Regions from separate parts of the Homo sapiens genome. Here regions 1 and 3 are each linked to region 2. Evidence: fine-mapped expression QTL. A gene starts in region 2. Each other region holds a variant in brackets. All regions are shown on one strand. Distances are between the middles of the regions. Region 1 has its middle 47 kb from the start of TNFRSF11B. Region 2 holds the start of TNFRSF11B (TNF receptor superfamily member 11b). Region 3 has its middle 36 kb from the start of TNFRSF11B.

What was found. PIP is the estimated chance that this variant, and not a neighbour inherited with it, causes the effect.
Region 1: its variant is the best candidate, but not a certain one, in a credible set for the expression of TNFRSF11B in lung (TOPMed, PIP 0.51).
Region 3: its variant is the best candidate, but not a certain one, in a credible set for the expression of TNFRSF11B in fetal neocortex (Walker 2019, PIP 0.55).

The regions. Positions count from the first base shown.
Region 1 is chr8:118,996,343-119,000,589 of GRCh38, reverse strand. It overlaps a transcript of COLEC10 not described here. Among named protein-coding and RNA genes, the nearest start is that of TNFRSF11B, 47 kb to the right of the region's middle. The variant A/T (reference allele first, on the strand shown) is at 1,711.
Region 2 is chr8:118,949,582-118,953,800 of GRCh38, reverse strand. It overlaps TNFRSF11B (TNF receptor superfamily member 11b), which reads left to right and starts at 1,916. Exons shown (of 5, transcript NM_002546.4): 1 at 1,916-2,009. The coding sequence starts at 1,980. It also overlaps a transcript of COLEC10 not described here.
Region 3 is chr8:118,985,479-118,989,725 of GRCh38, reverse strand. It overlaps a transcript of COLEC10 not described here. Among named protein-coding and RNA genes, the nearest start is that of TNFRSF11B, 36 kb to the right of the region's middle. The variant T/C (reference allele first, on the strand shown) is at 2,434.

The DNA of each region.
Region 1 (4,247 bases), 47 kb before region 2:
GCTTAGACTCCATGTTCAGATGTATAATCACTCCCTTGCAAGCACTCTTAACTTTACTTCTCTCCCCTCTCACTCTGCCATTATTGCCTGGTGACACTCAAGCCTGATTAAGCTCCTCTGTGCACTTGGTCTGTGCCTGTATCTGAGAGGCTCCAGGATGGTAGGAGAAAAGCACACAACTGTGCTGATGGGCACTTCATTTCAAAGTCATGACTACAAGTCTCAAATTGGCACTCCACAATGCCATATAATCCTATCACACTTCTCTAGGAAACTCATTTCCCCATTCTCCTCTGTACCACCTTTTTCTGATGTCCGACTTTTCTTCCCCTCTCACTCTCAGCTGAAAACATTGCAAGATAGTTCCCAGAAAAATAATCAGGAAAGAATGACCTCATCTTCTATGCTGGCTCCTCCTTTTATCTGAATCTGCACACTCTGCCTTTCTCCCTGTTATAATGGAATAGGTGTCCTGCTCTCATGTAAGACCATCCCCTTCACTGCTGCTTTAGGAAATCAGCACTATGCTCTTTCTTTTTTGCAACATTATTTATTATTTTCTTCCTCTCTATGAGATCATTTCTATTTGCATACAAATATGCCTTCATATCACCTATCATTTAAAAATACCCCATGCCTCTTCAGCTATCATTTCAATATCTGCTCTCTTTACAAAAAAACTCTTTAAAGAATTCTCTGTATTCATTGCTTCCACTTCCTGCCATTCTATTCTGTCTTAACCTCACTGTAATTGAACTGTTGTTAACTGAAATTACTTTTATCAGCATTGCCAACATTTTATATCTTCCCAAAGCAAATGGTCAATATTTTGTCCTACCTTGCACAAAATTTCAGTAGGATTCAACAAATCTGACCACTTCCTTCTCTTAAATAACTTCATTTTCTAGGCTTTTGAGACCATGTTTATGTGCTTCTTTTTTCCATCTTGAGGAAAACTCTTTCTCAGTCTCCTTTGCTGGCTCTTTTTTTTTTTTTATTGAGATGGAGTCTTGCTCTGTTGCCCAGGCTGGAGTGCAGTGGCATGATCTCGGCTCACTGCAACCTCCGCCTCCTGGGTTCAAGCAATTCTCCTGCCTCAGCCTCCTGAGTAGCTGGGATTACAGGCACCCACGACCATGCCTGGCTAATTTTTGTATTTTCAGTAGAGATGGGGTTTCACCATGTTGACCAGGCTGGTCTCAAACTCCTGACCTCAGGTGATCCATCCACCTCAGCCTCCCAAAGTGCTGGGATTACAGGCGATTGCTCTTCTTTATCAGACCTCTAACTCTAGGACATCCTAGGGCTTAGTCCTCAGCCATTTCCCATTCACTAGCTTCTCTTTTCCTAAGGCCATTTTATCCATTTTAATGGCTCCAAATGTCACTCACACACCATTCTTCCTAGTAATTAGAAATTAATAACAAATAAATAAATGAATGTATTTATAATAAATAAATGTGACCTTTTTAATAGTCTTAGCTATACCTTGCATATCTCATACTGTGTGACCTTGGACACATTTATTTGTCTCTATTGGTAACATTACTTTGTGCCTGGGGTTCTTATGAAAATTAGGTGATAATATACATAGAGTACTTAGCACAGTGCCTGGAGAATAGGGGGCATCCAATAAATGCTAACACAGTAAAAATCTTAGTTGTAATAGCGATGGGCTATTAATTAGAATGATGAAATCAAGTCAAGCAT[A/T]TCCAAGTTAATTTTTTTTTTTTTTTTTTTTTTGAGACGGAGTCTCGTTCTGTCACCCAGGCTGGAGTGCAGTGGCACGATCTTGGCTCACTGCAACCTCTGCCTCCCGGGTTCACGCTCTTCTCCTGCCTCAGCCTCTCAAATAGATGGGACTACAGGTGCCTGCCACCACGCCTGGCTAATTTTTTTTTTTTTTGTATTTTTCAGTAGAGACGGGGTTTCTCCATATTAGCCAGGATGGTCTTGATCTCCTGACCTCGTGATCCACCTGCCTCGGCCTCCAAACGAGCTGGGATTACAGGCGTGAGCCACCATGCCTGGCCAAGTTCTTAAATTTTTACCACAAGATCACATGCACAAGATGGTAAAAAATCACTTGGCTTTTATGAACTTCTATTCATGCGCTATCTCAGCAAAATGCCTAAGTGATCATGCTTTTTATTTGGTCAAGGTGATGGTTTCATGGCTCTACCATACATGTCCCAAATAACTCCATTTCCTCAACTTTAGATAGGAATAGAGCCAATTGAAGAAAAGCTTAGAATGAATGTTTCCTATTAAATTCATACATAGAGTTTAAGTTTATCCACATTGGGAATAATTGAAATATTTACTGTCTCTGGGAAATATGTCATGGGTAAAAGGCAAATTTAACTTCTTTCTTCTAAATTCACACCAATTTTAGAGGAATATAAAATCTTTATATTTTTTTCTCATTTCATTTTTAAGTCAACCTTGCGAGTTAGCAGAAAGAATATAATTTTTATTTTATAGATGAAAATACTGAGGTTAATTTGCTGTTCAAAATCACATCACTTTAATTTGATAAACTTGTGCCTGAAACCCAGGTCTTGATTGATCATATGTTGAACATTCCAGTGCTATTTTTCAATGCTGCCACCTTAATGGAGTACAAGATGAATTTATTTTATCATATGAAATAGAACAGGTTGTTTCCACTTGTTAACACTAATACCTTTATTTTACTGCTCTCTAAAACATTTCCCTTAACATCCCTCTAACTGAGAAGCTCCAGGTGCATGCCTTAATCTACTGTATATAACTTTACATGCCATGAAACACAGCCATTTAACTCTTGTGAATTTCTAGTAATGCAGAAGACACCCAAACACTCACCAGTTATTAAACATGACCAATAATGGAGGAAGAGCTATAGCAAAAGACCAGCCTACAAAGAGATTTCTTTATAAGGCAGTCAGTAGAGAATAGCCTTCAGAATCAGTTGCAGCTGGGTCTAGACTCTGTTTTCATCACAATTTTGCTATGTCACTTGAGGCATAAATACTTTGAATCTGTTTCTCATTGAAAAATGAGGACAGTAAAGTGTAATTCAAGGGTCAGCATGAGGATTAAAGTGCTTATTAAGTATTTGTGAACAAAACTAAACTCAAAATGAATTAAAGATGTAAAAGTAAGATATGAAACTTTAGAACTTCTATGAAAAAACACAGGGGAAAAGCTTCAAAACATTGGTCTTGAAAATGATTTATTGGATATGACATCAAAAGCACAGGTAACAAAAGCAAGAATAGACAAGTGGAACCACATCAAACTAAACAGCCTCTGCACAGGGAACGAAACAATCAACAGAGTGAAAATATGACCTAAGTAATTGTAGGAAATATTTGTAAACCATATATTTGGTAAGAGGTTATTATTAAATGTATATAAGGAACTCATGTGATTCAATAGCAAAACAAAACAAAAGCTGAGGAAAACAAAAATCTGATTTTAAAATGGGCAAAGGATTTAAATAGAAATATATCCAAAGAAGGTGATATGGTTTGGATGTGTGTCTTCTTCAAATCTCATGTTGAAATGTGATCTCCAGTGTGGGAGGTAGGCCTGGAAAGAGGCGTTTGTCATGGGGGTGGATCCCGCATGAATGGCTTGATGCCACCCCTGTGGTAATGAGTGAGTTCTCACTCTGATAGTTCACGTGAGAGCTGATTGTTTTAGAGTGTGGTACCTCCCCCAATCCTTACTCTTTCTCTTGCTCTGCTCTTGTCATGACACGCCTGCTCCCACTTTACCTACTACCATGAACCAAAGCTCCCTGAAGCCTCACTAGAAGCTGAGCAGATGCTGGTGCCATGTTTTCTGTACAGCCTGGAGAACCATGAGCCGATTAAACCTCTTTTCTCATAAATTACCCAGTTCCAGGTATTTCACTGTGGTAACACAAATAGACTAGCACAGAAAGCATACAGATAGATGGCCAACAGGTATATGAAAAGATGCCCAACGTCACTAATAATCAAATAAATGTAAACCGGAACCACAATGAGATATCACCTCACACCTTTTAGAATAGCTCTTATTTTTTAAAAAAAGACAAGTGTTGGCAAAGATGCAGAGAAATTAAAACTCTTATATACTGTTGGTGAGAATGTAAAATGATGTAGCCACTGTAAAAAGCAGAACGAGCGTTCCTCAAAAAATTAAAAATAGAACTATCATATGATCCAATGATCCTAGTTCTAGGTATTTATCCAAAATGATTTAAATCAAGATCT
Region 2 (4,219 bases):
GGTTACAAAGGCCAGTATCTTAGGTATTCCCCTAGAATAATCATAACTATAGGAAATATTTCCTATGGGCCAGGCATTGTGCTGAGTTATTTTACATGCATTACTTTATTTAATGCTCATAATTAGTGATTACCATCATTTATATAATTGTTTTTTAAACGCTCCCATTTGCTTTCTCTTACGTTTCTGCAATATCAGTGTGTTTTTATCTTATAGATGAGGCTCAGGGAGACGTAAACCTTTCCCAGGGTTAACACTGAAGGACTCAGTTATTGATTAGTTTTCTCCAAGGTCTGACACCCACATATTGGCATCATTTTATGTTCTGAGAAAAACACCTTCAAATAATATCCTAGACAAACATTACTCTAACAAAAACAATAATACTGCTATTTATATTGTGTTTCACTACTAACACTTGGATTGACTTGAGTCCCATGGCAAGTCTAAGTGTTGATATCTCAGGTTGCAGATGTCAAAACTACGATTCAAAATACAAGGAGTGATTTGGAGTCATACAATTTTGTCCACACTCACTGAGCTACATTTATTCACTAGTTCACTTAAGAAACCAGCATGCTGTTACATTCTGGCCCTTGAGGGACAAAGCTGAATGACACCCCGTCTTCTGTAATTTGCAGGATGGAACAGTCTGTGGATCCACTTTGAACTCGTGGTGGAAGGATGTCCCTTGGAAGGGGCAGATGCTCTGATCCTGGTAAGCCATCCTTGCTCCCCAGGGGTCCCCTCTCCTGATTCTTCACCTTCCTTCCCTTGAATCTGGTGAAAGGCAGTATTTGCCCTTCTCTGGAGACATATAACTTGAACACTTGGCCCTGATGGGGAAGCAGCTCTGCAGGGACTTTTTCAGCCATCTGTAAACAATTTCAGTGGCAACCCGCGAACTGTAATCCATGAATGGGACCACACTTTACAAGTCATCAAGTCTAACTTCTAGACCAGGGAATTAATGGGGGAGACAGCGAACCCTAGAGCAAAGTGCCAAACTTCTGTCGATAGCTTGAGGCTAGTGGAAAGACCTCGAGGAGGCTACTCCAGAAGTTCAGCGCGTAGGAAGCTCCGATACCAATAGCCCTTTGATGATGGTGGGGTTGGTGAAGGGAACAGTGCTCCGCAAGGTTATCCCTGCCCCAGGCAGTCCAATTTTCACTCTGCAGATTCTCTCTGGCTCTAACTACCCCAGATAACAAGGAGTGAATGCAGAATAGCACGGGCTTTAGGGCCAATCAGACATTAGTTAGAAAAATTCCTACTACATGGTTTATGTAAACTTGAAGATGAATGATTGCGAACTCCCCGAAAAGGGCTCAGACAATGCCATGCATAAAGAGGGGCCCTGTAATTTGAGGTTTCAGAACCCGAAGTGAAGGGGTCAGGCAGCCGGGTACGGCGGAAACTCACAGCTTTCGCCCAGCGAGAGGACAAAGGTCTGGGACACACTCCAACTGCGTCCGGATCTTGGCTGGATCGGACTCTCAGGGTGGAGGAGACACAAGCACAGCAGCTGCCCAGCGTGTGCCCAGCCCTCCCACCGCTGGTCCCGGCTGCCAGGAGGCTGGCCGCTGGCGGGAAGGGGCCGGGAAACCTCAGAGCCCCGCGGAGACAGCAGCCGCCTTGTTCCTCAGCCCGGTGGCTTTTTTTTCCCCTGCTCTCCCAGGGGCCAGACACCACCGCCCCACCCCTCACGCCCCACCTCCCTGGGGGATCCTTTCCGCCCCAGCCCTGAAAGCGTTAACCCTGGAGCTTTCTGCACACCCCCCGACCGCTCCCGCCCAAGCTTCCTAAAAAAGAAAGGTGCAAAGTTTGGTCCAGGATAGAAAAATGACTGATCAAAGGCAGGCGATACTTCCTGTTGCCGGGACGCTATATATAACGTGATGAGCGCACGGGCTGCGGAGACGCACCGGAGCGCTCGCCCAGCCGCCGCCTCCAAGCCCCTGAGGTTTCCGGGGACCACAATGAACAACTTGCTGTGCTGCGCGCTCGTGGTAAGTCCCTGGGCCAGCCGACGGGTGCCCGGCGCCTGGGGAGGCTGCTGCCACCTGGTCTCCCAACCTCCCAGCGGACCGGCGGGGAGAAGGCTCCACTCGCTCCCTCCCAGGAGAGGCTTGGGGTTAGGCTGGAGCAGGAAACCGCTTTCAAGTTATGCCATGCTTCCCCTAGGGTGTCCTTTTACGCTGCAAAGTTCCTGCTGACTTTATGGAAGACAGCAAGAGAGAGACAGACAGCGAGAGAGAGGGAGAGAGAGAGAGAGAGAGAAACTTGTTTGAAAGTTTTAGTCATTAACCTTCTGTCTTCATCTCAGAATATTAACGCCCTCATGTAGTCCATACTATCTTTGCTTAATGAACTTGAACTTTTATTATTAGTGGCAAAGAAGTGGTCCCTTAGATTCAGAGTAAGTTGGAAGAAGACGTTAGTCTTCTTAAAACCATTATAATTAGAATATGACATGATAGATTTTTCTAATGTAAATATTATGTGAAATTTTGAATAATTAGGAGAAAAGATCTCTCACACACACACTTCTTAACTGTGTAATGTTTTAATAAAATTTTATTGTTAAAATTATTTCACTTCTCAACTTCAATATACTGTGGAGAATATTGGCAGTATGTTATGTTCTAAAACATATCTAAAGAATTGAAGTTCACTAAATAGGGCTAAAAATTGTGTTTAAAATGTTATTTGGAAAAGAAAGGAATCTCTGTGACTTAGCTTTTTTTTTAAGCTTAGGTTTTGATCAAGTTAATAAGATTTGCATGTAGGTTTTTCTATGACCAATGACTTATTTTCTCTATGACACTAGAGTGTAGAGTACATCAAGATATGAATCAGACATTTATGCAAGGCTAGGAAAAGCCATATTTAAGCCACATATGTGTTTTGGATGTGTTTGAGTAAATGTTTGAACTTCAACCTCCAACCCACAAATAATGAATAGAAGGCTAGGTAGTCTTCTACTTAGTTCCTAGGATACAGAAACATAAATAAGTAAATAAATAGTAAAGACACTAAAGAACAGGTAAGTTGGATAGGAATCTACCCATAAGTATGTTAAAATATATATGTATGTATGTGTGTGTGTGTATAACTTCATCGCTAGAGATACTATGGAGTGCTTTTAAAAAAGTAAACCTTTATTAAAATATAACACATAGAGAATTGTGCAAGTGGTAAGTGCCTAATGCAGTTTTTCTAAGTGAGCACTTGTGAGCTAGCACACAGATCAAGAAATATATTATCGGCACCTCAAGAGCTTCCATCACTACTGTGTCTATGGCCAGAACAATCAGTATTCTGATTTGAACAACATAGATGAATTTTGCTTGTATTTGAACTTCCTATAAATGGAACTTATTCAATTTTTTGCATTTGACTTCTTTCACTGAAAGTTCTGTTGTGAGATTCATCTCTACTGTAGGATATAGAATAATTTGTCCGTTGTCATTGCTGTATGGTATTCCATTGTATGGACACACCACAATTGATTTAATCATCCTAGTTTTGGGCTAGTATAAATAATGCTGCCGTTAATATGGGGACATTTTTATTCTTCCTAGCCCTTTTTATTTTGTCAAAGATTTAATTAATAACAAACATACTAGCAATGAGTTAAATTTCAGGGTTTCCACTAAATAATATATGTTTCTATTTAGAAGTATCCATAAATTTAAATAGTAAAATATTTTTATATGTGGTCTGTACAGGAAGATAGACAAACATGTAGATAATACTAATTTTAGATGATACAGCATTATCAGAAGATAAGACTTCGTATATGTCTTGAACACAGTAAATACTTTATATAGGAAGAATTTTGCTTCCCCTTTCTTTAGCTTCTGAGACTTACTTTATTTTGAAAATGATTGCAAATGGACACTTTGTATTTACACATAGAGTCCAGATGCCCTTTTGTAAAACCAAGGTGCCACTGTAGGAACTAGAAGCACCACAGATATTTATTTCTTTATAATGGGCATTCCACTGGCACTAGGCATCAGGACAGTGTGAAAAGCAAGATAGACACTATTCCTTTCACCATGGACCCATAGTCTAATGGAGAAAGCAGATATTGGGCAAGTAATTGTGTATATAGAGTTGCAAAGAAAGAAACTACTGGGTGACTTGGGAATATAAAAGATTCTGCCATATAGCACCTTATAAGGGAAGCTGCTAGTGCAGTGTTATCATGTGG
Region 3 (4,247 bases), 36 kb before region 2:
GCAAATTTTTAGTTGCCTTCATCCTTTCACCACAAGCTACTAACACATTGATATAATCTTAAAATTTTCAAGACTATAATTTTATTTGTTCTTCCAAGATTTTGTCTTTGGTATTCTGCAGTTTGAGTAGGTTATGGGTAGGTAGGGGTGTGTGTGTGTGTGTGTGTGTGTGTGTGTGTGTGTGTGTGTGTATTTTGTCTGTCTTTTTTTTAAATCCTGCTTGGTGTTCTCTAAGCTTACTCAATCCATGATTTGGTGTATAACATTAATTTTGGGAAACACTTGAGCATGGTTTTTGCAAGTATTTCTTCTGCTCCATTCTTTCTTTCTGGTATTCCAACTATAGGCATTACACCTTTTGATATTGTCACATAGTTTGGATTTTCTCATCTGTTTGGTTCATTCTTTATTCTCTTTGCATTTCAGTTTAGAAAATTTCTATTATCTATGTTCAAGTTCACTGATCCTGTTCTCAGCTATGTCCACGCTACTAATGAGCCCATCAGAGGCATTCATTATTTCTGTTGCTTTTTGATTTCTAGCATTTACATTTGATTCTTTCTTAGAATATCTCTCTGCTTACATTACTCATCTGTTCTCGTCTGCTATCTTATTTTTCCATTAGTGCCTTTAGCACATTAATTATAGTTATTTTAAATCATTTGCCTGATAATTCTATATCTGTGTCATATCTGAGTCGCATTCTGATGACTGCTTTGTCCCTTCAGAATGTTTTTGTTCATTGGTTGGTTTTGTTTTGTTTTGTTTTGCCTTTTGGCATGCCTTATGATTTTGTTGAAAGGCAGGCATATTGTATTGGGTAATAAAAACTGAGCTAAATGGCCTGTAGTGTGAGGATTTATGTTAATCTGGCTAGGAGTTAGATTATGTTTAATATTTGTTGTAGCTATAGGTGTCAGAGGTTTCTAATTCCTCTAGAGTTTCTGTTGTTGGCTCCCCTGTTGACTTGGGCATTTTTTATGCAGTCCTCAGAGAGTCTGTGTCATGCAGCTTTTCCAGCTATAATCCACTGTTATTATACTTGTCAGTGTGATGGTAAGGTGTGGTGAAGAAGGAACCTCCTATAATCTTCCAATTAGATCTTGGATTTTTAGTCAGTCTGTGACTCAGGGCAGTGACCTTCACAGATGTTTCGCCAGTGATGCCACTTTTTCTCTCGTCTCCTACTCCTTTCCCTGGCTGCCTCATTCCCAGTCTATTTCCTTGAAGCCTTAACTCCTGTTGATGATGTCTTTCCCCTCTTAGGTGAAACAAGAGGGTTGGAAGGGACTAGAGTGGGAAGAATTCCCTGTTTCTGGCTGTGATCAGATTTCAGAATTGCTCTCTGCTAAAGACTTTCACATGGAGACTACGTCTTTGTTAGAGAGAGGAGTTGGACACATTTCTCAATACTTACTCTCCCCTACCCCTGTCTCCACCGCCAGAACCCTAAGGGGATCTTTCCCAGATCCTCATGATGAGAATCTGATAATATTCCTGGAAGCAAAACCCACAAACTTTTAGGAAACCCCTAAGATTGGGGTCCCTAATAGTTTCTTACTCATGCTAGTTCACAGTCAGCCTTCAACAACTTATCAAATTTACCATTTAATGGTTCCACCAGTCTATGGCTCCAGCAGCTTCTTTTCCAGGTGAACAGATCTCAGCTCGATCTCTCTGGATGCACCTGTCTCTCCAGATTTTGGGGTGGTTTGCCATGAGCCCCTGGTTCTCTGGTAGAACCAAACATGCGTTGATTTTTAGTTTGTTCAGCTTTTATTGTTCTAAGGACAGGAGTGATGACTTCCACACTCTACCTGTTGGTGCTGAAACCAAAGACTATTTATTATTTTTATAAAAAGTTTTATCAGTTTCTTTGCTTATCATGCTCCTGATAAAACACATCGAAGATTTTTAAATATTTTGGTGAAATATAACTTTAATAAGCTTTTCAGATAGGATTATGGGTAACAAATATCCTAAGTCCAGGAATGTCTACATCTATCTTTATTCTGCCATTCACATGAATGATAGTGGTCTAGACATAAAATTCAAGGCTCAGATTTTTTTTTCTCAACACTTTGAAGATATTGTTTAAATGTTTTCTTGAACTCAGTGTTTTTAATGAGGAGTATGTAATCAGTCTTTCTTTTTTATTTTTTGAGACAGATTATCACCCCGTTTCCCAGGCTGAACTGCAGTGGTGCGATCTCGGCTCACTGCAACCTCAGCCTCCTGGGTTCAAGAGATTTTCATGCCTCAGCCTCCCAAATAGCTGGGATTACAGCCCTGTACCACCACGTCTGGCTAATGTTTGTGTTTTCAGTAGAGACAGGGTTTTGCCCTGTTGGCCAGGCTGGTCTCAAACCCCTGGCCTCAAGTGATCTGCCCACCTCAGCCTCTCAAAGTTCTGGGATTACAGGTGTGAGCCAC[T/C]GCACCCAGCCTGGTTATCAATCATTCTTGCTCCTTTGTAAGTTGTCTGCTTTTCTCTCCAGAAACTTCTAGAATTTTCTCTTCACATGTGAAGTTCTAAATTTCCACTTACAATATATCGAGGTGTGGGTTTGTTTTTTTTGTTTTCACTCTCCAGGAACAGTTCCGCAAGCATTCCCAAGTGTCTCTCAGAGACGAGACAAAGTATTCGCCTCTCTTCCCCTGTTGCTTTTTCTTTTTTTAAAGGTGAAATTCACATAACATAAAATTAATCTTTTAAAAGTGCATAGTTCAATGGTACTTAGCATACTATATTGTGCAACCATACCCTCCATTTAGTTTTAAAACATTTCAACACCCTAAAAGAAATCCCCTTACCCATTAAAACATCTGTCCCCATTCCTTCCACATCCTATACCTGAAAACTACCAATTTTCTGTGTCTATAAATTTACCTGTTTTAGGTATTTCATGTACATTGAATCATACAATATGTATGGCCTTTTGTGACTGGCTTCTTTCACTTATCATAAGGCTTGGAAGGTTTATCCACAATGTAGAATGCATCAGTACTTCATTCACTTTAATGGAGAAATACTATTTTATTGAGTGTACATAAATATATTTTGTTTATCCATTCATCTGTTTATGGACATTTGAGTTGTTTCTACATTTTGGCTTAGATGTGGGTCTTCTTTTCATTCATCTTTTTGGCATCCAAACATTACTTTCAATTTTATAATCTATTTATTTTCCTTAGCACTGTAAAATAATTTTTATTGTTTCTTTGAATATTTTATTCCATCCATGCTCTTTATGTTCTTTTGGAATTCTAACAGGTTTATTTAGAATGGTTGGACGTTGGTTTTCTTCTGCATTTTCAATCACATTGTTCTCTTTTCCTGAGTACAGAAAATGTCTCAATTCAATTTATAACTCTTCAGTGAATGAACTTTTATGTTTATTCTGCTGCTCAGAGCATCAGATGCATTCTTAAATTTCAAGGGCCAGATTTTGAATTTCCAATCTCTACATCTGTTTCTTTTCTATAGATATAATATTGCTCCATATCTTTACTAGTTATAAACTTTTGTTAAAGTCTTAATTTGTCATTTCTAGTAACTTCATGGTATGTTTGTATTTGCTTTGGTTTTGTTTGGAGTTTTCATTGTATTAATATTGATATTCATCATTAAATTAGATTTCCCCAACTTTTGGTGATTCTTGACCATGGGATCATCATGACTAGAGAGTCTGTCACGGAGCCTTTCTATAAGTGCTGCATTTGTTTACTGCACTCTGGCTCCAAAGATGGTAGTGGAGTAGTTGCCTCTTCTGGTCACTGCTTGGCATAACTGATTGTTGAAAGACGGTGAAAACTTCAGATCGGAACTGCTATAGGTCTCTAGTCAAACCCCTGATATGCACTTCAGGGCCCTTACCTGACAATCTTATTTACCACCACCCAGCTTGGAGTAACTATGAGTCCTCTTCCACCTGGAATGTGTTTGGAGCTATGCTTTTGACTCTAGGTTTCTCTTCCTTCAGGATTTCCTAATAATTTCTAGACCACTGATTTTCTTTATCTCTTTCTTCAGGATTTCCTAATAATTTCTAGACCCCTTTATTTTCTAGAACTGTATGTTATATCTGGGGACCAAGAGAGGGAGAAGGAGGCTTGAGCACATGTTCAATCTGCCCTTTGGACCCAGTGAATGTATATCTTATAACATATGTGGAAAGGAGAGTACATCCTCATAAATCCCTGTTTAAATCACCTTTTTTTTTAAAATAACACATTTACTCAACAACTGC